Linked DNA regions of Homo sapiens: all the other regions are reported to be linked to region 1. The links are microRNA targets in miRTarBase. Many come from high-throughput screens and were not tested one by one. Region 1 holds a microRNA gene; each other region holds the end of a gene's coding sequence.

Region 1 (7,123 bases):
GGGAGCAGCAGGCAGGGCCCCCCAGGTCCCCTGAGAATAGGGGAGGAGGTTTGAAGGCACTGACACGGGGCCTGGAGCTCACGGTCCTCAGTGCAGCCTGCTGCCCCTACACCGCCTGGTGGGGCTGGTGGGGGAGACGCCCGCTTCCCCATGGCACTGAGTGTGGCGGCGGCCCATGGGTTTTCCTAACAAAGGCCTGGGCAGTCTTCCTGGGAGGAGGTGTGGGTATCATTGGTCAGGGGCAGGTCCTGGCCCCATCACCCTCACTAGCTCCCTGGCCGTGGCTGCCTGAGCACTGAGTACACGTCGTCCACACGGCTGAGTTGCTCGAAGAAGGGGAGGAGGTCGTGGAGCTCTGTGTCACTCATGTTGTCAAACCACGAGGCCACCGGTACCTGGGGAAGTGGGTGTAGGAAGATGAGGGGGGCAGGTGGTCCTGGGTGCAGAATTTCCAGGCCAGCCCTATGTAGCCACTACTCAGATCATGCAGTTTCTGAAAACCCCTCACCCACAGTGTTCAAACTTTTTTGACAGCAATCCCCAGGAAAACACATTTATAACGTAACAATGCAAAAGCTTCACAATTCCTAACCTTATCTGTGCGAAGCACTCGGATACTTTTTTTTTTTTTTGAGGCAGGGTCTTGCTCTGTTGCCCAGGCTAGAGTGCAGTGGCACAATCTTGGCTCACCACAGCCTCTGCCTCCAGGGCTCAAGTGATACTCCTACCTCAGCCTTCTGCATAGCCGGGACTCCAGGCATGCGCCACCACGCCTGGCTAGTTTTTGTATTTTTTGTAGACATAAGGTTTCACTATGTTGCCGAGGCTGGTCTTGAACTACTGGGCTCAGCTACCTGCCCACCTCAGCTTCCCAAAGTGCTGGGATTACAGGCATGAGCCACTGCACCCGACCGGATATTTTCTATTCTATTTCATTTTGTTAAAATTCCCAATCAGAACCCACTAAATTAATTCTGTGGGCCATCAGTAGGTCACAACTGGCAATTCGAAAAATTGAAACTTTCCAAACTCCGTTGCCCTGTGGGGGCCCCTGTGCATGGCAGATGCTCTGCTTTGTGCGAGGGGAAAAGACCATATGGCTACAGGGCAGGTGGATGAGGGGAGTGGGCGGCAGGCACAGGCAATGAATGCAGGAAGGACTGGGAGGGCACCCACCCCCCAACTGGGGATCCAAGAGGCCAAGGTGGCCTGAATGGACTGACCCCTTCCTGGGTCTCAGCTCCTGTCCCAGTCCCAGTCCAGCCCGCACTCACAGCATTGTCTGGATGGAAGACATAGGAGGCAGGTGAATTGTCCAGGATGAGCACCCGCCGCAGGTCTCGACCCAACCGGCTCAGGTCCTTCACGTAGTTCCCCCGGTGGAAGACGCAGGACTCTCGAAACAGCCGGGCCCGGAAGGCCCCCCATTTGTCCAGCAGGTCAGCTACTGGGTCTGCGTACTGGGAGCAGGAGGTGGGTCATCCTGGGGCCCGCAGGTTCATTGGGCTGCATGCGGGAGGTAGGTAGGAGGGCAGGGTTGCCCCGGGACCCCTGTGGGGCTCACCTTGGCGAGGCTAGCAGTGAACAGCACACATTCAAAGAGCTCGCCCATTCGCTGCAGGAACTCATCCACGTGAGGACGCTTCAACACGTAGACCTGGGGGGCGGGCCAGTGAGGGGGCTGCGGGCCAGTGGGGCAGTGTGGGGGTGGCCGAGGGCTGGCAGGGCATGGGCCAGGGAGGCAGAGGCGCACAGGAAGGAGACTGGGCCCGCAGGCTCCGCTTGGCCAGCTACCCTGACCACTGCTGGGGAAACTGTACCCACCCCCCGCCAGAAAACGATCAAAACTTCCACTCCACTGGCCAGTCCTACCTCACGAGGTCCCTAATTCCCAATCCCTTCCCCTGCCTCAACCTCAGCCTAGTGCAGGAATCCAGGGGCAGCCCCCTCACCCCAAGGCTGCAGGGCACCGGTCCCCGAGCCAAGTAATGGAGAACAGGCTGGACAGCACACAACCTATCCTGAATTACTTGAACTGGGTCCCGGGCAGGGTGGGGCGAGGGAGCACAGCACGGGGGAGCCTAGAGGAGGAGCCCACTCTGCAGGCTTGGAGTCAGCACAAGCCCTTGAGGTTCTGTGTGACTTTGGGACAAGTCTCACACCCTCTCTGGGCCTCTGACATTCCACATGTATCCAATTCCCATCCGAGGCGCTCCGGATTGGTGGGAAGAGCCTAGGGTCTGGAGGCAGATGCCAAGCCCACCACTGCCTCTTCCTGGCCCTCACCTGGTGGACCACCCCATCAATCTCCACAGGGATGATGAAGTCCGCGTTGTTCACTGGCTGTGGGGGGAAAAGAGCTGCTGGAGTTGGAGGAGGAGCCCCAGGGCATGGGGTCCAGCACACACCTCCCTCCCAGGCCAGGGTGGGGGATGCCCCCCGAGACCCGGGCTGAGGGCTGTTGAGCAGGGCCCACCTTGAAGGAGCTGTGCACCAGGGTCTCGTCCAGGTCGATGACCACGCAGATCTTGTCTGAGTCCTGGGCCTTGGCCTCAGGGAGCAGGTATTGGACTGGGGTCTGCTGTAGGGAGGGCGGGGCTGGCTGGGGTGCCTCTCTCCGGGCCTGGTCCTTCCTCCCACGCAGGCTTCTCCCCCTAGCCGTCTCCAGAGGAACCCCAGGCCCCAGGAACAGATACTTCCCCCTTCCCAGCTTTGCCCCTGCCAGCTCTAGGGCTTGGGTAGGCCTCTTGGCTCTTTGAGACCTCTCTAAAAACCAAGGTAGGAAAAAGCTTCCACTTATGAGGGAGAATTCAGTTTCCCCACAGTGGGCAGGGCCTGGCAGGGGAGGCTGCCACCCTCCTACTCTGCACCTTTCAGGTCTGCAAGTCCATCCTGAAAAGCTCAGTCAGGAGCCCCTTCCCCTAAAGCCCTGAAGACTGAGTCCAGGTGCCCCCGTGGCCCCACCTGGCCCCCACGCACCTTAGGGATGGCGCCATTCTCCTCCACAAGCAGGGGCGCCCCGCTGTGAGCAGGCAGGGCCTCCCCATCATCCCGGCAGACACAGCAGAAGAGTGAGTGGAGGATGCCCCGGCTTCGGGGCTTCTGGGAAGCTGCTGACTTCTGGTCACCTGAAGTAGGGAGGCACAAGTTGGAGGCTCGGTGCACACTGGCCTGCAGAATCCTGCATGTGTGCCCAGGTGTGAACCCCTGAGCCAGGAGGATCTTGCCGTGGCCCCTTCATCCAGACACACGAAGGCAGCTCCTGACTTTCTCTGAAACGCCCCTGTCAGGGCTCCACAATCAACTGCAAGGCTCCTGCAGCTCCCAGACAAATAGGTCTAGCAGGTATTAAGGCGCCCACATAGGGAGTGCGTGGCCTGGAGAAGGAGGTCCTGGGGTGCTCTCTCCCTGCCTCTCACAGCCTCCATGACTGCTGCTGATCAGCCCCATTGCGGTGCCTCCTGACCCCACCTTACCTGAGCACCCCTGCTCAGGACAGCCAGGGCCTGGGACCCAGGGCAGTCCACCCCTGCCCTCCCTCCATCCTCTCCACCCCCGTGGGTACGAAGTCCTCACTGCGGCTGGGCCCAGAGGCAGGGGTGCAGTCCCGCGGCCTGGGGCCAGTGTCCAGTGGCCATCTGTTTGCCCTGCCCCGCCCAGACCTCCGACCTGGAGCCCAGCAGCCTGATTGACAGATACCCCTCCCACCCCACCCCCCTCCGGCCCCCTGCAACTAGCCTTTCCACCTTGCCCTCAGTTCCGGGGCAGCCAGACCCAGGCGAGGGTGGGCAGACCTGGGGGCAGCGTCCAGATCCTGAGGTCCACACGGGGAAAAGGAGAAGACAGACCCCCCCACCCCGGCCCAGCCACGCTGGGGGACGCAGCCTCGTCGGGGCGGCGAGGCTTTGCGGGGTGGTGCGTGCCCACTAGGCGCACGACTCTCCCCGCGGGCGCCAAGCGACTCTTGGAAGTGCCGGCCGTCCTCTCTGTGCCTCCGAGGGGGTCGGCGCCTCCACGCGTGACGCGAAGTTTGTGGGGAACGTAGCTGTGTGTTGGCGGGAGATCCCTCCAAGCCTCCCCAGCCTGCTGTCACCTCGGCGCCCCCTCCCAAGACCCTACCGGACCGCAGCCCGGGGGGGTGGGGGTGGGGGGTGGGGCGGAGTCTCAGCGGGTGGCCCATAGGCGCCCTCCTCAGCTCCCCCATCTCCCAGCCCCATTGGCGCCAATGGTGGGGGGGCGCCCATGCACCACGCAATGCCTGCCAGGAAACCCCCGAAGAGTTCCCTCTCTATTCCTGCCTCAGTTTCCTCACCTCGAGCGAACAGGAGCGCCCCAAAGGCGCCAGGCCCCGCCCCGCGTCTCTGAGCCTCCTCTGAGTTCAAACTCTCTCCCTGCTCCCTCTCGGGCTGGGAGCTTCGGGCACAGCTAAGGCGGCCGCCCGGGGCGGCGGCGGCGGCTCCCCTGGGGAAGATCCCGGCCCCTTCTCTCCTCCCACGGCGCCCCGGCTTCGGCCCCCTCCCCGCAGCCCCGGTACCTTTGCCCCGCAGCGGGCCCCGAGCCTCCTCCTTGCTGATCTGAGTAATGACGGCCGAGCTGTCCATGGGGCCGGGCGCGCTCCGCTCCGGCCGGACTCTGGCCCGGGCGCCCGGCCTCCCCCCCGGCTGGGGCCGGAATCGGGGCGCGGGGGGGAGGGGAGGGGTGGGAGGGAGGGATCCCCGCGAGCTCCGGAGGGGAGGGGAGCCAGGTTCTAGGGGGGAGGGGGAGGGAGGGGGCGCGGAGGAAACTTTGTTACAACATGGAGTTTCCTTCCCGCGAGGCGGATGCAAACATGGAACCCAGGCGCCGTTTCAAGGCTCCCCCTTAAAAGGGCAACGGCTTCGGCGTGACCTGGACTCGGCTGCGGCTTTCGCCACTTCTGGGACCGGCGCGGCTAGGCGGACTGGGAGGCGGGCCGGGCCGGGTTCCTGCCGCGCTCCAGGGGGCGTCGCCTCCCTTCCTGCCGCCCGCCGGCGGGGCTGAGTCTCTGCGGCTGCGTGGCAGGCCCGGCACCCGGCTCACCGTTCCAGGCCGCCGAGCGCCCTCGGCCAAGGCCCGCCCGCCGGGAGCGCCCACGCCGGGGAGTGCCCGAGTGCGGCGCGGCTCCACCTCTGCGTTTTCTGAAGACCCGGGACTAGAGGCTTCTCGGTTTCCTCGTTGAGGACTTGGAGATAGCACTACCTCATCTGTAAAATGGGTCTTCTCTCCTGTCTGGTGGTCGCAGAGATCACCTCGCAAGGACGTCAAGAGCCAGCGAAGGCTCTGCTGGCCCGAAACAGCTGTGCAAACCTCAGAATCACGCTCTTGAATGGGACGGTCGCCGCCCCCCGCAGCCCCAGGGCGAGGTGCCCCCGGTCTGTAGGACGTGAAATTCTAACTCTCTGCCCTGGGAAAGCCCCCTGCCGACCTCTCCCCACGGCCCCACCCGGGGCCCCGCACGTCTACCCGCCGCGCACGGGCCACCGCGCGTTCCCGCCTGAAGTTTTCGTACGCGCTGTTCCTTTCGCGTAGCCAAATTCCACCGACCTCGAGGAAATGCCACCTTCTCCAGGGGCCTTCCCAGACCCCCTCCCCTGCCCGCGGTCGACGGCCGCCCTGTGATTACTGGGGGTGCGGTGGGAGTCACTGGACTCGCTGCCGATCCTAGGAGCCCAGCACGGCGCCGCACGCGGTGGGCCCAAAGCCCGACCGTGGGGGACCTCAAACCAGAGGCCCTCAAGGCCCGTTCCACCCGGCCTGTGGCGCAGTGCTGGGCACTTGGGAACGGAGGTCCCTGTCTTCTCGCTGCAAGCCCCTCCGTGGTGCGCGCCGTGGGTCTGCGGGTTGGTCTTTTTCCTCGTTTATGAAGTTCTTTTCACTCGTCGTTACTATTTTGTAAGTTCACCATTTAAAAATTAATAATGCCAAGCCCGACAAACACCCCTCGGCACTTCCTCCCCTCCCCCTCTCCCGCGGGCCTCCGTGGCGGGGCGGGGCGGGCGCGTCCTGTCCCGTCCGGCCGCCGGGTGCGACGCGGCGCACGTCCGCCAGGCCCTGCCGAGGGGGAGCCGGGGAGGGGAGGCCCCGCGCGGGGGCCGGGAGGGGAAGGGAGGGGAGCGGCGTCTGCCAGAAGGCGCGGCGGCTTCGTGCGCTGAGGCTGGGAGTAGGGGCGGGAGGGGACTGTCGGGGACTGATACCCCGGTCCCCGGGCTGGATCCCTCGGCCCTCCTCCTGCTCCTGGGTAGCCCACGGGGCGGCCACCATTGCGCTTCATCACCGTGATCGCCACACGCTGCTGGCGTTTTCCTAGGCCTGCTCTGGCTGCGCCCCCTAATCTCATTTACCCCTTAGAACGGCCTCCTTCTTAACCCATTTCACAGATGAGGAAACTGAGTTTCAAGAAAGGAAGCGACGTGCTTCGGGTCTACCGGCAAGGGCAAAGGCGGGATTCCAGCCTGGGAGCGGGACATCTGTCTCCCCTGCGGTCCGGCCCCCTGGGTGGGGCCTCGGCTTTATCTCCGGATGCGGGGCCCTCATGACCCCAAAAGGAAGCGTGTGGCGAGGGACTGAGTGGAGTCGTGGCCTCGCCCTTGGCCTGGGTTGGGTGGCGCGCTTTCCTCTCCCTCTGTGAAGGGGGCTGGTACCTGGCCGGCTGTCCCCACACCCACCATTCCCAGACGCGCCATCCTGAGCTCACAGGATTCCTCAGGAATCCCCCACCTCCTCCACCCCATCTTATCGCCACTTCAAGCCGTTGCCCGTGCAGTTCTTTTCCCAGGGAGACCTAACTCCTCCTCCCAGGCTCCCAAAGCGGCAGAGGTAGCCGCGCCTTCTGCCTGGAGCCCTGGACTTATCTCCCCACGCCTGGGGCGGGTAGTTAGTTACGGAGTGAGCGAGAGGCCAGGATTGCGTGGGGGGAGGGGGGTCCTTCGAGTGTCCTCACTGTAGGGGTTGTCTACACCCAGCTGCCCTCTGTCTCTACAGGTGGAGGTCGCTTTATGCACTCTATTTTTTGTCTGTTTTATCATTCGCACCCCAGGAAAAATAAAATCATGGGGGCCACAAGTCAGAAACGGGGAGGGGCAGGAACGGGATTCAGCAAGGTGCT
Region 2 (7,123 bases), not on the chromosome of region 1:
CCAACTGTTTTAGATCTTACCTCTCAACATTGTTGTCAAAGTACCTTTCCACTCTCTGGTAGTGTCTTTGAGAGGGTTTGTCTATTGGACTTAAAACTACATACACAAAGGTAAGATAAAGGTTATTTACACAGCCAATCTTAAAAGTAGAATATCAGCACTCTTTAATCTTCCCATTTTTTTGTAGAGACACGATCTATGTTGCCCATGCTGTCTCAAACTCCTGACCTCAAGCAATCCTCCTGCCTCGGACTCCCAAAGTGCTGGGATTACAGGTGTGAGCCATTGTGCCCGGCCACAGCACTCTTTATAGTAGTGTTTAACTTTCTGAGTCATGGACTCCTTATAGAGTCTCATACACCCTATGGACTTTGGGGGAAAAAATACACACACACACACACACACACACACACACACACACACACACACACACAATTTACATATAAAATGCCTCACAAATCTTGGGTTAAGAACTTCTCCTCTAAAAAGAGTAGGAAGTCGAAATTGAAAACAGGAGCCTATTTACTCAATCATTTGGCTTGAAGTTGAGGCAAATGCCTTATATATAGGATTGTCGCTGAGGTCTCCATCTTCCCAAGCAAAGGTGCCCTCTGCACTCTTCTTGCCAACCAAACCAAACCAAACCAAACAAAAACAAAAAACTCAAGAAACAAGCACAAGCACTCCAATTCTTGTGCCCACATCACAGTACATTCAACCTTAACACCTTAGAGGTTTACTTATCCTTATCCTTAAATGTTTTCTTTCTTGTAGGCCACTAAGGTTGGGTATGCTTCTAGTAATGGGAATACATGGGGCTGAGCCTCTACTTGCCTGCCTCAGAGCACATATTGGAAATTTCCTAGTACCAAAATCTGATCCCTAATTTAGGAAGAAGTCAAGAGACCATGTTGGAAGATAAAAATAAACGTATATAAACCAGAACAAGATTGGAGGGGAGAGGAGGCAACTGGGAGACAGAACAACTTGTGAAGAGACAAATACATTACAGAAATTCATAAAGTGTGAAAGTAATACATGTTGAGCAGTGTATCTTTAAAATTATTTTGTAAGTTATTTAAGCACTTGATACATATTTTTGTCTAAACACAGGAACTTACCACTTAGAAATGTAAATGAAATTTTTTAAATGGCTGACCCTACACTGCATGAACAAGAATATAAAAGAGGGATATTTAATTCATGTTTCTAGCATCTTCCTCTGGATTTCAACATGTCAAGGCTGATCTGCTGATCTTCCCCTAATCTGCTCTACCAGCATTTTTTCTACCTCAGTTAATGACAACTCCATTTTTCTTAAGCTGATCAAGCCAAAAAATCCACCAGGAAATCCTACTGACTCTCTTTTTAAAATATAGTCATTTAACTGTCAAAAGAGTCCCCAATAATGTCAGTACTAAGATTTCCCCTATTTTTTAAAAAAACAAAGTAAATGAAGACTCAAAGAGCAAGTAACTAGTCTAAATTAGATAGTCACAGGTGGTAAAGCCAGAAATCTGTCTGGACAGTCTAACTCTATACAACCCAGGCTTTTAAATATTAGAAAACATCACTTCTCAAAAGAAATTAAAACCTAAATAAAAACTGATTACAAGATAGGACTAAACTCAGGAATAATTATAAGTGCATTCCACAGATTTGTTCCAAACTCACTAATTTAGCATTGTACAATTATATCCAGAAAAGCTGCTAGGAAATAGTAATGTTCAGAATTAAATACATTTTCTCTCATGGTTTTGTATGTATTTTGGTAATGTATTTTTAAACATTAAGATTTATGTCCTGGCCACAATACTTTGAATATAAGGAAAATTTTTGAAGAAAATTTAAAGACGACTATCAAGAACAATTCCTAAGTAAGTCAGAATGTAAGCTCCTAAAGGGCAGAGACCATCTATTTTGTTCATTATCATACACCCACATCTAACATATATAATAGGTATTTAACTTTATAAATCAATAATTCATATATATGTATCTTTATGTATATCCTTCCACAAGTCACCCACTTCCCACTTCTTGATACCTGTAATGTTACCACCATCATCTCTTGTGTAAATTATTAAAACACCCTACTAACTGGTCCCTCTGCTTCCATCTTAGCCTCCTTTGTCTTATCACACAGTCAGAATAATCCTTTTACCAAAAAAAAAAAGTTTTAACATTTTTAAGTGAATAAATTTTTTTTAAAGAAGTCCTACCCAATTTGGAGAACTAAACCCATGACTTATTATTGTTCGTTTCAATCCTGTGCTTCTACAGTGCCAAAAAATACAAAATTTTTAAAGATGGGGATGTGGGAAAATTAAGCACTAAAGTGTTAAGAATTCTGCCTTAAAACTTTTTCCCTCAATGATGGAAAACTGAAGGGACATGAATCAAAACAAGGTGTTTAAAAATCCAAATTAGGTTTTATTAGCATCACTGCCAAGTATTTTACCTGGCTTATCTCCACTTCTCGTTAAGCCTAGTGTATCTGATACTGCTTTGATTACACATATACTGTATTAAGCAAACTGATTGGTTTCTAGGCCATAATTTAGCAAATTACAAACCAGTGAAGAGTAGTAAGTCCACTTCAATCAGAATATAGTATGTTTATATTAGTATGAAGAGTAAGTCCACTTCAGTCAGAATATAGTATGTTTATATATGCTTAACATCAACATACTAATTTGACGGCTAATCTAATGAAGAAATATCTTTGAGTACTCATGCACTTTTTTCATGTACTCATAATATGGGGCATTTTCAAAAAATGAAAGACGGAACTGTAGAGTTTTCCCAAAAAGATTACAAAAGATACTCTTCCAATATATTAGTCAGAACAAAGCCTTCGGCAGTTCGGTATACTTCATACAGCCTCTTATTGACTTTAAAAGATATGTTCAAGTATCTCTTCCATTTACATTTCAGTGGTATCTAATTAGTATTTACATGATAATTTTGAGCAAGTAGTTTTTACAAGGCAAAATGAATATAGTTTCTTACAGTCTTTGCAACAGATATTTCCCCAAATACTGTATTATACTCTGAATAAACATGCCAATGAAGAAATATGACATTCAACTTGATGGTTTTAATCTTTTAGAAGTGAACTTACTTTTACTGTAGAAAGTTGTATCAATATAAACATGGAAAATTCTGCATTCTCCCAGATGTGCCAAAACATAAAAATTCATCTAGGCAAAATAGTATTTATGCTTCCATTTTATTGTTTTTAAGAATTAAACTGCCACCTCAGTAGTCTTAAGAGCAATATAATGAAACATACATACATTTAATTTAGACTTATGTCCATCATAGCTTCAAAGGCTTCCCTGAAATAAGGCTGGGATTCACATCTTTTTCCGTAAGGAAAGAAACACTAACAGTAATTTTGTTATCCTTCTACCCACCCACCCTCATTCAAACAATTGATGAATTCAAGTCTAACACGATTTAAAACTTTTGTCTGCTACAACATTCATCTGATATGCCTCCCTGCATAACATAGATTTCTTAAACCTAATTGAAAATAAATCATTTTTTAAAAACTCTACAAGGGTTCTCTTAATTCAAAATTTTATCATGATACTGATTTTCTCGTCCAATACATAGGCTAAGTGGTTTCTTACCACATTCAACTCTAGTGACTTTCAATAAAAGCAGGATAGCTCTTCATAAATAGTTGAGAAGCTCTAAAGTGATTTTGGCTATTTTCTTATTACATGGAACAAAGAATGGTTTGGATTTTTAACAGTAATATTTTAATAGCTCCTAAACAGGGGGATGAAAAGGAATCAAGTTTGCACCAGTCCAAGTACCTACAGTAATATGATAGAAGCACTCACCACCATTTCACACTATCACTCCCATGCTTTTAATAACAAGCATTTCTCACTAGAAATATTGCATTAACACTGGACTTTCAAACTGCTAAATGTAGAAAATCACTTGCCTGACTTAAAACAAAAAAGTTTATTAGTTATTTTTGGCCAGTCAAGGTTGAAACGGCCATTTTGTTATTTCTAACTTCTGCTCTAGGGTTCAGAAATGATTTTGCATCTGATCATTCAAGATGAGAATTTGTTTCACCTGTACCTGACAGAATAAAATGGTAAATTAGCAATCAGATCACCCTTTGTCAAAAGAAGTATGTTCTAAATGTATACACTACAAACTATCTAATAAATGATATCTGCATACTACATATTTCATGTTTTATTATGCACCATTTTAGTGGGGAGGAAAAACTTCACAGGGATTTATTCAAAGGATATAAATAATATCCTAAGAATGTTGATTTATACATATGAGTTCTGTATAAACTGTTAAGTGGTCATCTTAGCTAAACTATAACAAGCCCCTATAATGTAAAAGCTGACTCGAAAGGCACCATGTAAAGCACTGAAATCCACAATTTAGCTGTTATTTCCTCTTCTCCAATACAAAATTATCTGGTAGTCTTCACTGTTGACTCCATGATAAAATGTTCCAAATTCAGACTGCTTTACCGACAAAAGGAATAGGAAATAAAAGTTTTTAAATTTCAAGTTAGAGGAAAAATCCTATCACACAGCAATGAAACCTGAGCAAATGCAAATTTGTGATTACAAGAATATGTCCTTCATTAATATATTATTCAAATTCCTCCATGGCATTCAAACTGTAGTTGAAAATCCTATAAACAAGAACCCACTTAAACACAGCATCAAACTCTACCATGAAATGAAGAATTACATAAAGCCTATTCAGCCCTATTCAGTTTAAGACAATGAACAAAACAGAACACATTTCATCTAAAGAACACCATTTAAACCCATTTAAACAGTTCTATAAAATAATGTTACTTAAGATCAGTATGTGTGGTGCATATGTGATTCCGACCATTCAGTAAAAAAGCATTAATGAGTAACAGCATTCCCCCACCAGCTTGAAGCCTGTAGAGTTGATTATTTTGGCCATCTCTTTCCAAATAATTAGTAATGTCTTTTAACATTACGAACAAATATATCTTAGTACTAGAATTCCAATGTATTTTGGTGCTCCTGAGGCTGCCTAAAAATGAAAAGGCATCCAAGTGAAGTGCATTGTATACTTACTATACCTCGAAACCTCAACATTTCAGTGCCTAAAATGTGAAATAATTCTCTATCATTTAACAGTCTGCCTTACAGCAAATTCTAGTAGATTTTTACTTTCAGGATTTTATTATAACTTTGGGAAATTAGTGGTAAAACATATGGTTTAAAAAACAGTATGTGGCTGCACTTAAATTCACATAAAAATAGCATTTTTACAACCATATTGAAATTTAATCCTTTTACACAGGTTAACAAAATGTATCACAAGAAAAACTAAACGTTGGGTTTAACAAAACAATACTTTTGAAGTAAAACAATGAAAAATTTTTTCAAATTTTTTACAAATGGTCACCTCTGGGTCAATTTACTAAACTAGGGGAACAAAGAGATGTTAAAATATAGCTGTGCTCAACTGAGCCACTTATCTGTACTACAGTATGGTACTTGAAATCAATCTTAAGGTCAAGATTTAAAACCATTTTAAGAAACAAGACCCTATGTGTTTTATACTACCTCGATAAGAGGTACTCTTCCTTCCCAAAACAGTCAAAGCTTAAAAGATTGACTACACATAAGTTTTTTTCCCCCTCATATCTTCCATTCAAAATACTATTATCATTGGTAATACGGTCTATATCTTGTCTGATCTGGATGATGTGGTCCAGGAAGTGGGGTTTGAGAAGGCGGACCCTGCAATCGTGGAGGTGGTGGTGGCCCTCTTGGTGCAGGCCATATACCAGGACTCATTCCCCCTGGTTGTGTAAATGGAGGGCTCAGAGTTCCTTGATCTTCAGTGAACTGGGGTAATGAGTTAGGATTATAATGGTGAGGAGGGGGTGCAGTTACAGGTGGACCACCATGTTGAGGTGGGGGAGGTCCTGGAGGAGGATGATTCATATAAGGTGGCATCTGGGCAATAATATGTCCAGGGGGAGGGGTTATTGGTGGTGGAGCAGAGGTCATTGGTGGAGGTGGAGCTTGGCTATATACCAAGTGAGGAGTACCTGCAGCCTGGGGAGGATGTGGCATTGGATGGCTTATTGGTGGTGGAGGAGGTGGGGGTGGTGCATAATGTTGCTGTGGAGGCATAATATGATGAGGGTGCGATACCACTGGTTGACCCTGATATTCAGGATGATGGTGAGCAGGTGCTGGGGCAGGAGGTGGTGGTTCTCTAGCACCTGAATTTGAGTCATCCTGAATAGGGACGGTTATTAAATTGCTGTGTTTTCTTGTTGAAATACGAAAGGTTTCCTGACTGACCGATCGAGGTGGAGGTGGAGCCATGGACAATTCTGCTGGAGGAGCACGAATATCCTCATGTGGCTGATTATAGTGCTCATGTGGCACATGTTGCAAAGGAGGTGGTGGCATCATGATGTGCTGCTTTGGCGGAATATGGCTCATATGGTGCTTGTCTGGTGGCATTATAAAACGCTCAGGGATTTCAGTTGGTGGTGGGGCAATAGGAGGATGAACATTTTCAAGTGAAGCACGGGTAACAGGTTTTCCAGCTCTCATATGGCGATGGTTGATATGAGCCTGTAAGTCTCTCTGAGACAAATATGTTCTCTTGCACCCTTGAACAATGCTACACATGAAGAGAGAACCTCGTGTACACTGCTCAATTCGCTGCACAGGATCACTACAGCTAAATTAGAAGGGAAAGAAATGTGATTTACTAAAAGAGAATACAAAAAATTATGTAATTTTCAAAAATATGCTTGTTTTTAAAATTTGACTGTTACATAAAACATAGCAAAAGTCCACAATTAGAAGTTACAGTTATTCTACGCAAACCTTTAATCTTCCCTACTTTGTTGTCTGTTAGCCATTAAGATAGGCATTTCTGTCAACTTCAGAACTCCTAATATCAAACGGTATGTTTCAAGAAGAGACCTCATTCTTCCCAAGGCCTAGAATTTATCCAGTTTTCTCAAACAATTGTACCTTCTGCATCCATTTGCCAAAAAACCCAGCAAGAAAAAAACCAACGGGTAGATTACTTACAATCATGGAATTCAAACTAGTATGGT
Region 3 (7,123 bases), not on the chromosome of region 1:
CAGGTAGACCAGGTCCTCCTTGAGGTTCTCAGGCTGCATCTCCAGGTTGGCTCCGGCCAGGGTCAGCTTGTCCAGCCCCTGGTGCAGCTCCAGAGACCCAGCCTCGCTTGGTGCAGAAGTCATTGGCAGCCAGGTGGGCATCATCCACCTGTAGCCAGCACTTCTCCATTCTGCCAACGTCTCCGGCCTGGTGAGTCTGGATGTGAGCGCATCCCAGGGGGCCCAAGGCACAGAGAGAGAGAGGAACGGGGTGGAGGGAGGGAAGTGTGTGCAGGGGCCAGGAGCGCCAGGCTGCTCGGGCTTCCCGGCCCCTGCAGCCCGCCAGGAGCTGTGGCCAAGGCAGAGGCCTGCCCTGCTGCTGCTGGCGCTGTCACCTCCCTGTGGTCCTGCCTTCTGGGTCCTTGAGGGCCTCCTGTCATCTGGAACTGGAAATAAGTTAGTGAAGCGACGTTTTGTGAATATTTATTGGCCTTTGCGTCTTTGTCTTCATTTTCAGTGCTGGCTTTTCTGTTGGGTCATTTGTGTTCTTATGTTGATTTGAAGAATTTAAAAAGGTATTCTATAAATTAATCCTTTATGGGGTCATTTCTAGTGCAGATAGTTGTTTCTTAGTCTGGTCATTGTACCGTAATTTTATTTCACATTTCTTTCTTGCTGGTAAATAAGAATCTAATTGATTTTATATATTGATTTTGTATCTTGTTACCTGGTTTAATTCACATATTCATAGGCATCATTTTTGGATTGTGGTGGGTTTTTCATGTACTTATGTACATGTAGTTATGTACTTATGTACTTAAATACTTAACGTACTTACATACTTATGTAGTTAGTGTCAGCCACATATAATAACACCTATATTGCTTAAATGTTGGTTCTTACACCTTTATTTTTCTTTATTTTCTTCTTTTATTGTCCCCATCACACCTCCTGAACACGGTGTGTCTGGTTCTGATTCCAGGGAACAGGTTTCAGTGATCCTGTATTCCTTATGTAGTTTATTATAATTTCATTTTAGACAAACAATGAGATTAAGGAAGCTGCCTTCTTTTACATATGCTAAGAGTTATTTATGACTAATTGTTGAATTTGAATAAATGCTTTTTTTTACATATACTGTAAATAATCATATGTTTTTCTCGTATTTTTCTGAAAATAGGATATTTTATGTGAACTATTTTTGGATGTTAACCAATCCTGCATTTTTTAGTATATCCCACTTGGTATCCATGTGTTACATTTCCATATGTGGTTTAATTCATATGATATGGTTTTTTTTAGAATATTTGTATTTCTGTTAATGAAAGAGTGGGCCTATAATTTTTTTTTCTAAGGTCCTGTTCAGATTGTGGTGTCAAAGTAATGCTGGCTTCACAAAAAAAAAAAACTGAAAAATATTTCCTATATTTCTTCTCTTTGGAAGAGTCTGAGAAATTTAGGTGTTTTCTTCCTTAAATATTTGGAATATTTCTTTAGGTATGGAATTTTCCTTGTGGAACAGTATTTTTGTTGGCTGGTTTGACTTCTAATAATTCAAATCCTTCGGTATATGTAGGAGTTTTCTTGTTTTATGTTATTTCTGTGTCCGTTTTAGTAAGTTTATTTTTATTTTTATTTTTTGGGGGACAGAGTCTCACTCTGTCTCCCAGGCTAGAGTGCAGTGGCGCAATCTCGGCTCACTGCAACTTCCGCCTCCTGGATTCAAGCAATTCTCCAGCCTCAGCCTCCTGAGTAGCTGGAGTTACAGGTGCGTGCCACCACCCCGGCTAATTTTTGTGTTTCTAGTAGACACGGGGTTTCACTATGTTGGCCAGGCTGGTCTCGAACTCCTGACCTCGTGATCCACCTGCCTCAGCCTCCCAAAGTGCTAGTATTACAGGTGTGAGCCACAGTGCCCGGCTGTATTTTTTAGTAGAGACGGGTTTTCAGCATGTTGGCCAGGCTGGTCTCGAACTCCTGGCCTCAGGCGATCCACCTGCCTCGAACTCCCAAAGTGCTGGGATTACAGGCGTGAGCCACCATGTCCGGCCTAGTAAGTTTATTTTTCAATGTGATGTTATTTGAATCTCTGTTGTCAAACTTGTAGTCCTAAGTATTTCACCGAACCCTCCTAGTGTCTTAATACACTGCTCTATGGAACAGGCTTTTGTTTTGGTTCCGGATATTGGTTTTCTGTGTCTTTCCTCTTTGCCTCAGTTGGTTTCACTAGTGGTTTCTTAAGTGTATTAATATTTATAAACCAACTTTTTTTTTTTTTTTTATGAGACAGAGACTCACTGTGTTGCCCATGCTGGAGTGCAGTGGTGCGATCTCGGCTCACTGCAAGCGCCGCCTCCCTGGTTCAGGCCATTCTCCTGCCTCAGCCTGCCGAGTAGCTGGGACTACAGGCACCCGCCACCCCGCCTGGCTAATTTTTTGTATTTTTTAGTAGAGACGGGGTTTCACTGTGTTAGCCAGGATGGTCTTGATCTCCTGACCTCGTGATCCGCCTGCCTCGGCCTCTCAAAGTGCTGGGATTACAGGTGTGAGCCTCTGCGCCCAACCCTATAAACCAACTTTTATCCTTGATTTGTTTCTGTTGCTTTTTTTTTCCTATTTCATTGATGTCTGCTCTTTATTACTTTCTCATTCTTTCATTTTGATCGTTTTTAATTCTTGAGAAGGGAGTTTATGTGATTGACTGTCAATCTTTTTTTCTATTCTAACATACTCCTTTAAGGCTGTAAATTTCTCTCTAAGCAGGGATTTATCTGACAGCCCACATTTTCCATCAGGTGTTTCCAAACCCTGTGTCTGCAGCCGCATTGACCTCCCAGTGTCTCCACCCTGTATCACCTACAGCCATGCCAGGCTTGTGTGTCTCCATCCTTGTGCAACAGAGACCCTGTCTCTATTTAAAAAAAAAAAAAGAAGAAACCTAAAAACAGACTGGCACTTAAAAGAGTTGTGCTTCATTTTTTGACTTTCCGTATTAATTTTCTGTTTGTTTGTTCCTTAAACAAGCTGCCACTGCTGCTGATTCAACATGTTTCATTTTATTCTTTTTTTTTTTTTTTTTTTTTGAGACAGAGTTTTGCTCTTGTTGCCCAGGCTGGAGTGCAATGGCGTGATCTCGGCTCACTGCAACCTCTGCCTCCCGGGTTCAAGCAATTCTCCTGCTTCAGCCTCCCAAGTAGCTGGGATTACAGGCATGCACCACCATGCCTGGCTAATTTTGTATTTTTAGTAGAGACGGGGTTTCTCCATATTGGTCAGGCTGGCCTGGAACTCTCAACCTTAGGTGATCCGCCTGCCTTGGCCTTCCAAAGTGCTGGGATTACAGGTGTAAGCCACTGGGCCTGGCCCATTTTATACATTTTTAATGTGTATTCTTGTTTTTGGAAAATGTGAACAGAGTACTATTAAACTCTTTTAGCGTCGGTGTAGCAAGGAGGTAAAGAAACAAACAACAAAACAAACAAAAAATCCCTCTTTGTGAAATAGGATTGAATATCGTTGGATTGAGCACTTACCAAGCAACTGTGCCAGGGTTTGTGTCCTTCATTTAATTCTTACAAGCCTGAGTGTTCCGTATTTTAACTTTATAGGTGAACAAATAGAAGCTGAGGGTGAAGGACCTACAGCTGTCACCTTCATCTCTTCTCAACACTGCCAGATGTCTCCTTGGATCTCCCAGACAGACAACAAGGGGCATCTCTGGTTTCTCGGTGCCCGCTAGAAACCTAGGGTCATTTCAAGGCATTATGCAAATGAGAAGCTTTCCTTCTCTTCACCTCATCTCCTGATCTGCACAAAAATGACTGTAGGACCCACTGTAGGTACCAATGTAGGCACCAATCCTCAGTTTACCACCTGCTCTCTACTTGCTTCCCTGCCATAACTTTCTAAAAGGGATGTGAGCCATGTTTAAAGTCACCTGGTCACTGGAGAGATCTTGTTCTACCCTCTACATCAGTGGTTGCCAACCTTTTTGGCACCAGGGATGGGTGTTGTGGAAGACAATTTTTCCACGGACTGGGGGGATGGGGGGAATGGTTTCAGGATAAAACTGTTCCACCTCAAATCATCAGGCATTAGATTCTCATAAGGAGCACACAACCTAGATTGCTAGCATGCGCAGTTCACAATAGGGTTCTTTCTCCTGTGAGAATGGCGTGCCGCTGCTGATCTAACAGGAGGCAGAGCTCAGGCGGTAATGGGAGCAAGGGGGAGCGGCTATAAATACAGCTCGCCACTCACCTCCTGCTGTGCAGCCCGGTTCCTAACAGGCCATGGACAGTACTGGTCTGTAGCCCAGGAGTTGGGGAATCCTGCTCTACAGAGTTTCCAACCTCAGAGATGAAGCATCCCCTCTGTATACAAGTCAGAAAGAAATTATTCAAGTAGGAGAATTAAAACAGGATCACAGAGAGGGAGGCTGAAGAATTTGACTTTCTGTGTTTACTTGTATGAGGAAAAACAGCACATAGAGGCAACCACAGTATTTAATTTGTTTGGATAATAGTTAACAGATAAACAGGTACACCCCATATACAATTACCAATACTTTTGATACAGTTCATATTTCAGTACATCAACACTATTTTATTTACACTCTATTTATGTACATTAACATCTTTCTAAAGTCAGTGCATTGTCAACAAGTTTTATACAGTAATTTACAAGGTGAATGTAGTTAATAGTTAATTTAATAAATTTTCCGCTAGTTCATGAATTAAAAAAATTAATTACAACCAGTATAACACAAATCACACAACATTAGTAGATTGTGCTACCTGTTTAAATAAAACATCTGTAAAGAAATTATTTAAAATCTTCCACTTTTTAATGGGACATGTCCAGGTAGGAATGGACAGATTTTATTTACTGAAAATCTTGAAACTATAAAGTGTGCATTTTGTCTGACTTTATTACATTAGACAATTTAGGCCACTCCTACCTACTTGCAATTATATTTTTTCTGAAAAGGATTTCAATTTAGGTAGCCATTTAAGATAACCTTTCCAAATGCTCTGAGAACTAGATATTAATAGTTACTGGCCTCAGATATCAGAACACAAATGCTTAGTTACATTGGTAATTACTACCTATGAGGAAGAAAGGGTAATGGAATCTGGCAATGAGAATCAACTTGCAGGGTCTAAATGAATAAACAAAGACCAAAAATAAGGTGAAACATTTCCTTCAAGTATATATTAAGAAACTACATGAAAAAAATTCTACCTCAAATAAATAATATTTATACTTTTGTTCCAATCTTAAATAATTAGAGGGAAAAAATGAAGTAAGCAAAGAAACATAACTTTCAATGACTACTGTAAAATTTAAAAAAAGACAAATATCAAAATAAAAAAACCAGTGGACATGCAAACAAAGCAAAACTAAAGTTGACTTCCTAAAACCACCAATTTCATTAAATATACTTATGAACTCCTAATGTCTGGGATGTGTTTTGTTTGTAATTTATAGCCCTTAGAGCCATCAAATACACACAAGCAAGTTCATTTGCATGTGTTCTCTCTTTTTTAAAGTGCAAAACAAACACAGAAAAGAATAACCACTAATTGTGAAACGTGATCTAGCTCCGATGCCGCTTACCTTCCCAGAAGCTCTTGTTGCAACATGTGCATGTGAAGATGGTGCAAATATTGGCAACTGCTCCCCTTCCCTCAGCATGGGCGGGGCCGGGGGTGCAGAATACATTTCTGAGGATACTTGAAGTAGCCTAAATGTAAGATGCCTCCACTGGGAGGGCCCTGGTAGCTGGATTTCCCAGGATGTTTTTCTTTCTACTGGGTCTCCCTCTGGTTGGAAGGCACATAGCTCTTAAGAGAGCCTCCCTTTCAGACTGACCACTCTATGCCCCTGCCACCAATGACTGGTTGTGTCTCAAACGTAAACACAATGGCAAAAACAAAAAGCAAGAAAAAGAAAGGGTATGGAAACAGTTTAAAAAATAAATTGAAAAATCCTTGTCCATGCCGTAAGAATCATTTGCACACCTTCATGATCTTGCTTTCTCCATCTTGTCAATATAATGGAATAAAACTTCAGGAAAAAGGAGGTAGCGTATCATGTCGTCCCTAGACAACATTATAATTGTTTGTTTTTTCCTCTGACTCCAAGGAAATCTTTAATATTTGTTATGATTATTGGTAAACTCTATACTCACTACATATTTGTTCATATCTGGACAAGCACAATTCAATTCTTATTTGGTCCCAGGTGGCTGGTGCCACACCTTTTGTTTACAGGCTAATGGTGGGATCTGCCTGAAAGTTCTCTATCAGACAGCTTGTATGAGACTTCAAAATACAATTGTTTCTACTCTTCAAGTTAACTATTTTAATTAGAATTTTTGTTCTAACAGGATAAAATAACTACATTTAGCTTGTCTTTCAGTGACACTTTTGCCAAGTATCAGCTACAAGGAGTCATCTCCCTCGCCACCAAGCTGTCTAGCAGCCAGAGTGGTAGCTTTACTGTAACATAGAGTACTTTTCGTAATCAGACTCAGAGTCTTCATCCGTACTGCTTGTGTCTGCCATCTTTTTGCCATCAATCTTTGGCAGAAATTGTGCGTAGTCTATCCCCTGCTGCTCATAGAAAAGAATGTAGGCAGAGTCGGTGTCAATTTCATCAGGGTGAAGTTCCTGAAAGGGCAAGAAAAACCTTTAACAAAAAGCCATCACTATTATGACTCTAAATCCTTGCCAGGAAAGGGAAGACCAACCCTCTGTAATTACTAACCTGATTGCTTCCAATAAGCTCACTAGTTTGGCTGTCTCACACCTGCCCCTTTAAAATGAGCCCCATTATTTCCAATGTTTGCTTTGGGGAAAATATTTTGACCATAGACAAGTCAAAACAGAATGACCTAAAACCCCATCAAATTCTAATTATTTATTTTGTATGTATTTATTTTTTTGAGATGGAGTCTCGCTCTGTCACCAGGCTGGTGTGCACTGGTGCAATCTCAGCTCACTGCAACCTCTGCCTCCCGGGTTCAAGCGATTCTCCTGCCTCAGCCTCCCGAGCAGCTGGGACTACAGGCATGTGCCACCACATCTGGCTAATTTTTTGTAGTTTTAGTAGAGATGGGGTTTCACCATATTAGCCAGGA
Region 4 (7,123 bases), not on the chromosome of region 1:
TTAGATGTGGTTATTTTCTAGAACATCCCTGGAAGAAAACTAAAGTCAGCTCTATAGCTTTAACATTCAATTTCCCAAAAACTAGGGCATAATGAAATCACAGAAGAGGGGATATAGTATCAAAAAATACTTCCAGTCAACATGAGTAGAATATGTGATCCCATTGCTAAAAGTTTTAAAGGTGTTGCTTTTAAAATGGTGGATAAAACAACTTTTGTAATCCAAAATTAGGTTAATATAGGATCCATTTGAAATGTATACACCATAAAAGAAATAGTGAGCCAGTCTAAGCCAGTATGAGATTATGCACTGTAAAATTAATTCATTGTTCACTAATGCCTTACAAATTTGTATGACATAACTGCTTTAGATCAATTGGTTCTCTGACAGACTGCAAGAACCACAGTCCCCTGAACTTTTTTTTTCTTGCTTAGACTTTTTTGGGAGAGGGGTAGAATCTGAAGTCCTAAACAATTATTAGTTTGAAAAGTGAAACACTATACATTTCTTTATACATTTCAAATGGATCCTATGATGTTAACCTAATTTTGTATTACAAAAGTTATTTTATTAATCCACCATTTTAAAAGACTGCATGGCTTAAATAAGACACAAAGCATGCACATCATTAGGGAAACATAAAAAGACTGAAATTCAGTCCATTAAAACTAACTTCATCAAAAACCACCACAGAGAATGAAAACACACAACTAAACCAAAGATACTAGCAAGCACACAAGACCAACAAAAAATTAGCATCCAGAATATATAAAATACTCCTACAGGTAGAAAGATAAATTGAAAAAAAAAGTCATGAAGGCATTTCATACATTAAAAAAGACAAAGTGTTCATAAACAGAAACAGACTCCTTATAGTAATCAGGAAAATGCAAATTAAAACCACAGAAACATTATATTCACCAGACTGCAAAAATTCAGCTGTTTGTAGAAATGGAGCAAAGGGGAATCTCCTCAGCTGCTGGGATGAAACAACAGTTTGGCATTCTGTCCAGTACATTGAAAGGGCACCTGCCGTACTACCTAGCAGTTTTACCTGCAGGTACACAGCCTAGAGAAACTCTAAACACATGGACCCAGGGACACGTTCAATAATGATTACAGCATCATTGTTTACAATATCCCAAAAGTGAAAAACACCCAGATGTCGTCGACAGAAGATAGCTGTATTCATGTAATGAAATGCTAAACTACAGCTATATGCATCAACGTGGATGAATTTTTAAAATAATGAAAAAGTTACAAAAACATATAATAAGATCCCATTTCTATTTAGTTTGAAAACTGAAACATAACCATATTATCAATATTTAGGAAAATACCATCAGTTGTAAAACAAGGGAACAGCAAGAGAATGATTAACACCAAACCCCCATGTGGTTTTCTTGGGCAGAAACTGCAGGAGCTTCTAAAGTGTTCTTAACTGATAACGGTAGCTTCTTTCCAAGTGCTTTATTTTCATTCTTTAAATAGTATAATACATATTGTATACCTTGCATGCACTATTTTTAAATAATTTTAAAACTTAGAACTGTGGGTGATTTGCCCCTTTTCTCCACTTACTGAACTGTGTATTAATACACATTAAAGTGCTCTGAAAGATAACAAGTGCCATGTAAATGAAAGGTGGGAAGGGTGGGAAGAGAGGAAATGGGACCTTTTTAGAAGCCAACTATTCTTACCAATTCCCACTTCCCAGGCTGGTTTAGCCTCACATACCCATCAGACTACCTTTAGGGAAGAACAGGGCCTTCCTTACCTTGTCTGCATCTACCTGAGCCACTTAACAAGGAATAGTTTTTTAGAGACCCACTTAAAGTCAAATACAGACTTTAGTTTCAATCGTTCCACCTAAAAGAATAGTTAACACTTAATGCTTATGTGCCAAGTTTATTCCTACCTATGAGAGTACACATAATACAGTAATAGCTAATGTTTCCAGTAGTTATATACAAGAGCAGCTAATATTTAGTTACTGTTTCCTAATATATAAAGTGCTTTACGCAAATTAAATCCTCAAACAACCTATGAGCTACATACTGTCATTATCATCCCACCTTTTGCACAAGGAAATGAAGCACAGAGATATTAAGGAATCTGTTCCTAAGCAGGAAATCGGGATTCAAATTGTTCTGGCTCCAGAGTCTATGCTTCTAACCACTCTGTGCTATATACAGATGACCTCAAGAGAGAACCAGATACTAAGCAATCTCCAAATATTTCTCAATACATTAAGCTTTGACGATTTATTCAATAGCAGTATCAACCTAAAGCATAATATCCTTAATACTTTGCTACCTTTTGTACAGATTCTGAAAAGAGTAAATACTTTAATACTAATCTGATAAAGACAAGTGCTTCTAGGTATAAAAGTTAACTCCTTCCCCCATCAAATGAGGGCATTATTAAAGAATGCTTGACTCTTACCTACAGAATGTATTTATAGTCCTTAGAGATGATCCAAGAATTATGGTATCAGATCTGCATCGACTGAATAAATTTGATGTACATTCCTGAGTATATCTCCACTAATGGGAAATGGAGGTATCAGGTGAACTGAGTGGTAAAGAGGAGCCAAACTACTGAAAAGAAAATACTTACTTGCCCAACTTTTCTTATACATTATATATATGCTGACCTGTGTTATAAACTGAACTCTAACTTTGCCATCACCATCTCTTGAGTTCACTGCCTTTGCTTAGTCTCTACAGATTTCCACTTATTCTGGATTCCCTTTTTAAACTTCACATCTTTGACAGCCTATTAAAGTATTCCTAACATCTGAAAGCCTTTGTTAAAAAAAAAATGTGGTATTAAAACTTCCCTTAAAAAACGAATACCGTCTTCTGAAACATCTGCAATGTGAAGCTGGAAAGAAAATCCTGTTACAATTATTAAAATCAATTAAAGCCTACCTTTTACATTTAGCAGACTCAGCATAAAATAATAACATGAAGTATCCAATATTTTCTCATCTTTCCCACAATTTTACAAATTTACTGCCTCAGAAGAAAAAAGGAACAGCAACCAGACTTAACTTTACCAAGAATGATTTCTGCAGTGTAGTATTTAACAGGATTGTACCTCGTCTCCAGTGTAATATTTTGAAGGCTCTGTTGTCATTACTGTAGTCCCTGCTTATCTGAGAGGGATACACCAAAACGCCCAGTGCATGCCTGAAACTGCAGATAGTATCTAACCGTATATATACGGTTTTTTCCTATATATACATGCCTATGATAAAGTTTATAAGTTAGGCACAGTAAGAGATTAACAATAACTAATGATGAAACATAACTGTAACAAATACTGTCACCAATGCTGCGGAGAGAAGATTCATTCTTACCACAGATCTTAGCAACCCCACATATGATTTCTTTTCTTTCCTTATTGAGAACTTTCATGTTTTCACTTAAAGGATGCATTTTAAGGCTTCTCTTATAGCATATCTGAATTGCCAGCGTCACTACTCTTGCACTTTGGGGCCATTATTAAGTAAAATAAGGCTTACTTGAAGACAAACACTATTGATTTGACAACCTAGCTACCAAGTGATTCATGGGCAGGTAGCACATACAGCATGAAGATGCTGGGCAAAGGGGTGACTTACGTCCCAGGCGGGATGCAGCATGACAGCACAAGATTTCATCATGCTACCCAGAATAACACACAAGTTGAAACTTATTGTTTCTGGAATTTTCCATGTAATATTTTCAGACCACAGCTGACCACAGGTAACTGAAACTGGAAAGTAAAACACGGATAAGGGGAGACTACTGTATTGTTTTAGTTCAACTCAGGTTTGCAAATAGCACTATAGTTATTACTAACATTAAACAATGCATACTGATAATCCCTTTCCAGGATTAGGATTTAAAGTAACTTCATATTGGTTCTTTTTATTGGAAAAAAGCTCTGGAAAGATCAAGGATGTATAAAGGAAAGAAAACACCTTTCTTTCACCTGGAATACATTGACAGGAGCCAATTTTAAACTTCAAATTTTTACCTATGTGCATGCATTTTATAAAAAAATGATTCCACAGATTTCATTTCATTCAATTAAGGGGGACCCCAAAAAGGTTAATATTAAGAACTACTGGTTTACGACATTCAATTTTGAACATAAACATCCAGGGGAAGGAAATTTTCAAAATTATGTTTATTAATGTTTTAGTATACACATTATATTCTCTTAGAATTGGGGGAAAAGGAAAACCCCACTCAAGTGAGGTAACAAACTTGCCATCTTTTACAAAATTTCATTAGAACTGACAATGTTATGGTGAGTCCTTAATTCCTGAGAATTTGAATTATTAAGTTTTCTGTGAACTTAAAACAAACGCTCACATTAATTTTTAAATTACAGTATGTCTGAAAAAATAAAATTAATGTTAATGTTATCAAGAAAAATCATCATCCAAATGTACATATTAACCTATTAGATGTGAATATACTGAAGCCCTGTTGCTCTGCAGTTTGACACCATTTAAATTCGTTTCCAGGATCTTATTTCAAATATATGAACTTATAATTTATCCAGATAGCAGTGACATTATTTTGACCTAAAGGAAAAATAATTGTCTGTCATTTTCTTCTCAACTGTAGGTATCCAGGGAGTCAGCATGTGAACTCTATCTAGTATTGATAAAATAATTAATTTACATGTGTAGGGATAATGAACACAGAACATGTGATTCTCTTCTAGTAACAATTTCTATCCCTTAATAGGAGATGATTTCAGAGAAGTTAGAGAAGAAAAACAGAGAAAACAATACTGTTGCTATGAAATGACGAATTTGATATAATCAAATGCAAGATCATTAATATAAACACTTATAATAATGAAAATATAAATTATTAATTATGCAGCATGCTTTAGGGCCATTTCTACAGTTATTATGAATTACAAATATTAAATGCCTTTAATCTATCCACTGTTCATAATTCTGTAAGCCATGTTTACATAATAAACAAAAAACATTTCCTACATATTCTGTCTCTTCTGACTTTTAACAATTAAAGTATTTATCTTGGGCTGGCAAGTTACCCTGACCCTAACCAGTAAGTACAAACAGGGCATTGTACACCCATTCTAAAAGCTGGAATCAAAGAATAATGTTAGAAGTATTTGCAGGATTTATCCAAAGAAATGTTTAGCAGACAAATGCAATAGAAAAAAATCAAGCATTTCCCAAAATGGTGTTTGTATTAGAAAGTTTTAAACTTTTGTCTTCATTGTAAAGGTATCACTTTATTTTATTTTTAAAAGGCCATGATTAACCATTTAATAACTTACATACCTTTACAAAAATAAAACTAACAGCTTGCTGGGCACAAAATTTACTCAAAATCTTTCTGTATTTTTAAAATCAGTAAGTGATGTATCTTGCTAGCGCTTTATTCTCACAGTGGTATTTTTTTAAAAGCCTGAACAGTGTAATTATTTAATCTGATGTTTTAAATTATACTTGATATAAAAAAAAAGTCTACCCAAACCATCACCAAAATTTCAATTCAATCTAATGTAGAAGAAACCTGAGTTTGGATGTAGAAATAATTCATTCAATTTTTTTTCTGACATCATACATCATGCCTTCAACCAAAATAGAAGTGAAGCTTCAAACAGGACTCTATGGCTTTATCTGAATTTTCTGAGTATTAAGTAAATCTTAAATTTAAAGCAGCTGTTGGAGGTTAAATGTTCTCAAAGCAATGTAAACTAGTTATAAAATGTCTCATCAAAGACATCAGCAGCTCTTGTGAGTCACATGAAATTAACAATGAAAGAAGGATCATCAGTTATACTGTACACTGAGAGTACATAAAACACTTGTGCCTCACCTCTAGTATCAAAGCCATCTTCATATATTCCTTTTATAAGAATATTGATATGTATTCTTTATGAACTTCAGGCTCATTCCTTTTGTTAAGCATGTATTTACTGGCTGTATATAGTATATGCATTGAATTTCCCATGACTTGAAATAACTATAGATCAAAGATCTATGCAAATACAAATTACAAACATGTAGATTACAAGAAATCCGAGGTGATAGTTTATGAATCTGGATTTGCCCTTTTATAACTTCACTTCAAATAGAAACATCTTGTACCCTCAAGTCCAGGCAAAAATCCAATTTTAAAATCTCATTCTTAACCTTTGAAAGTAGAGCCTTTGGAAACAGAATGAACTTCACTTTAAAGCACTGCCTTTAAGAACTGTAACATCTATTTTCCAGAGATGTGACCCAGGAAACAATTCATCAATAGTTTATCCATTCCACTGGCAAAAGTTTTAACAATTCTGATGATTTCATCATATGTGCAGTGAATACCATCCGTATCATTTCACAACAGGATCAGCAGACACAGTGCTGTCAGACAGGTCTCCATTGCTTGTTTTAGTTTCTTCTGAAAGCATGAGTGAAAATAATAATGGATATTTATGTTCATTTTTAAACAATAAATTAAGAAGTAAAAGAAATTTGAGAAGAGCTGTATTGCCAAACTTCAAATTACAGTTGCATCCATCAAATGTTTCTCTAACATCACAAATTATACCTTGTTTACACTTTAAAATTTTTAAAAATCTAGGCTAAACACTGCAATTGTTTCCACTGGTTTTTAATGAAGGTGGAGTTGAGGGAGCTCAGAACCTGTATTGGGGTGGGGCTTCAAACCACATGGGCTCCTTTGTCCTGAGGAATCTTGATATTCCTGGTCTAAGAAAGGCCCGCTCCCCTCACGCCAGTTCCTCCAGCTGGGCCAAGAAAGAACCATTACAGTACATTGTCATTCCTGGTAGGAACATGGCTGCAAACTCACATATCAAAACTGTCCAGAATGAATAACTTTCCATTTGTATTTATAACTTATTATAATAAATTATACGTAATATATATTATTTCTTAAAATAATTTTAAATGAAACAGCTTTTCACTGTTTTTGACAGAATGAATTCCTGGCTTTTTGTGCAAAATGTCATGTGTGCATATTTCATTAACAGACAAAGACTATTTGAGTAATGTATTCAGAAACTGACTATATCTCTGAGCAATCTTTAGCTGAAATAGTCTTAGAACAGTGATGTGAGTGATAACATA

The links. Region 1 holds the annotated microRNA hsa-miR-26b-5p (UUCAAGUAAUUCAGGAUAGGU, at 2,015-2,035, opposite strand). A microRNA usually pairs through its seed, bases 2 to 8, with sites in the 3' UTR of a target mRNA and lowers its output. Matches are read on the target gene's strand: a 7mer-m8 pairs with bases 2 to 8, a 7mer-A1 pairs with bases 2 to 7 and ends in A, and an 8mer does both.
Region 2: miRTarBase lists CBLL1 as a target of hsa-miR-26b-5p. Seed matches in the 3' UTR shown: 7mer-A1 at 4,552-4,558 and 7mer-A1 at 3,446-3,452.
Region 3: miRTarBase lists USP6 as a target of hsa-miR-26b-5p. Seed matches in the 3' UTR shown: 7mer-A1 at 6,331-6,337 and 8mer at 5,184-5,191.
Region 4: miRTarBase lists WASHC4 as a target of hsa-miR-26b-5p. The part of its 3' UTR that is shown has no 7-base or 8-base seed match.

What each region holds. Positions count from the first base shown.
Region 1 is chr2:218,397,569-218,404,691 of GRCh38, reverse strand. It overlaps MIR26B (microRNA 26b), which reads right to left and starts at 2,046; the gene lies at 1,970-2,046. CTDSP1 (CTD small phosphatase 1) reads right to left here and starts at 4,824. Exons shown (of 7, transcript NM_021198.3): 1 at 4,535-4,824; 2 at 2,980-3,128; 3 at 2,477-2,581; 4 at 2,287-2,343; 5 at 1,565-1,657; 6 at 1,275-1,460; 7 at 1-395. The coding sequence starts at 4,601. The coding sequence ends at 267. RefSeq lists silencers at 4,377-4,536, 4,697-4,776, 4,847-5,216, 5,907-6,176.
Region 2 is chr7:107,757,758-107,764,880 of GRCh38, reverse strand. It overlaps CBLL1 (Cbl proto-oncogene like 1), which reads right to left. Exons shown (of 6, transcript NM_024814.4): 6 at 3,214-6,738. The coding sequence ends at 5,703. Among named protein-coding and RNA genes, the nearest start is that of CBLL1-AS1, 17 kb to the right of the region's middle.
Region 3 is chr17:5,172,335-5,179,457 of GRCh38, reverse strand. It overlaps USP6 (ubiquitin specific peptidase 6), which reads right to left. Exons shown (of 38, transcript NM_001304284.2): 38 at 4,467-6,653. The coding sequence ends at 6,480. It also overlaps a transcript of ZNF594 not described here. Among named protein-coding and RNA genes, the nearest start is that of ZNF594, 16 kb to the left of the region's middle.
Region 4 is chr12:105,166,172-105,173,294 of GRCh38, reverse strand. WASHC4 (WASH complex subunit 4) reads right to left here. Exons shown (of 33, transcript NM_015275.3): 33 at 4,165-6,431. The coding sequence ends at 6,364. Among named protein-coding and RNA genes, the nearest start is that of WASHC4, 62 kb to the right of the region's middle.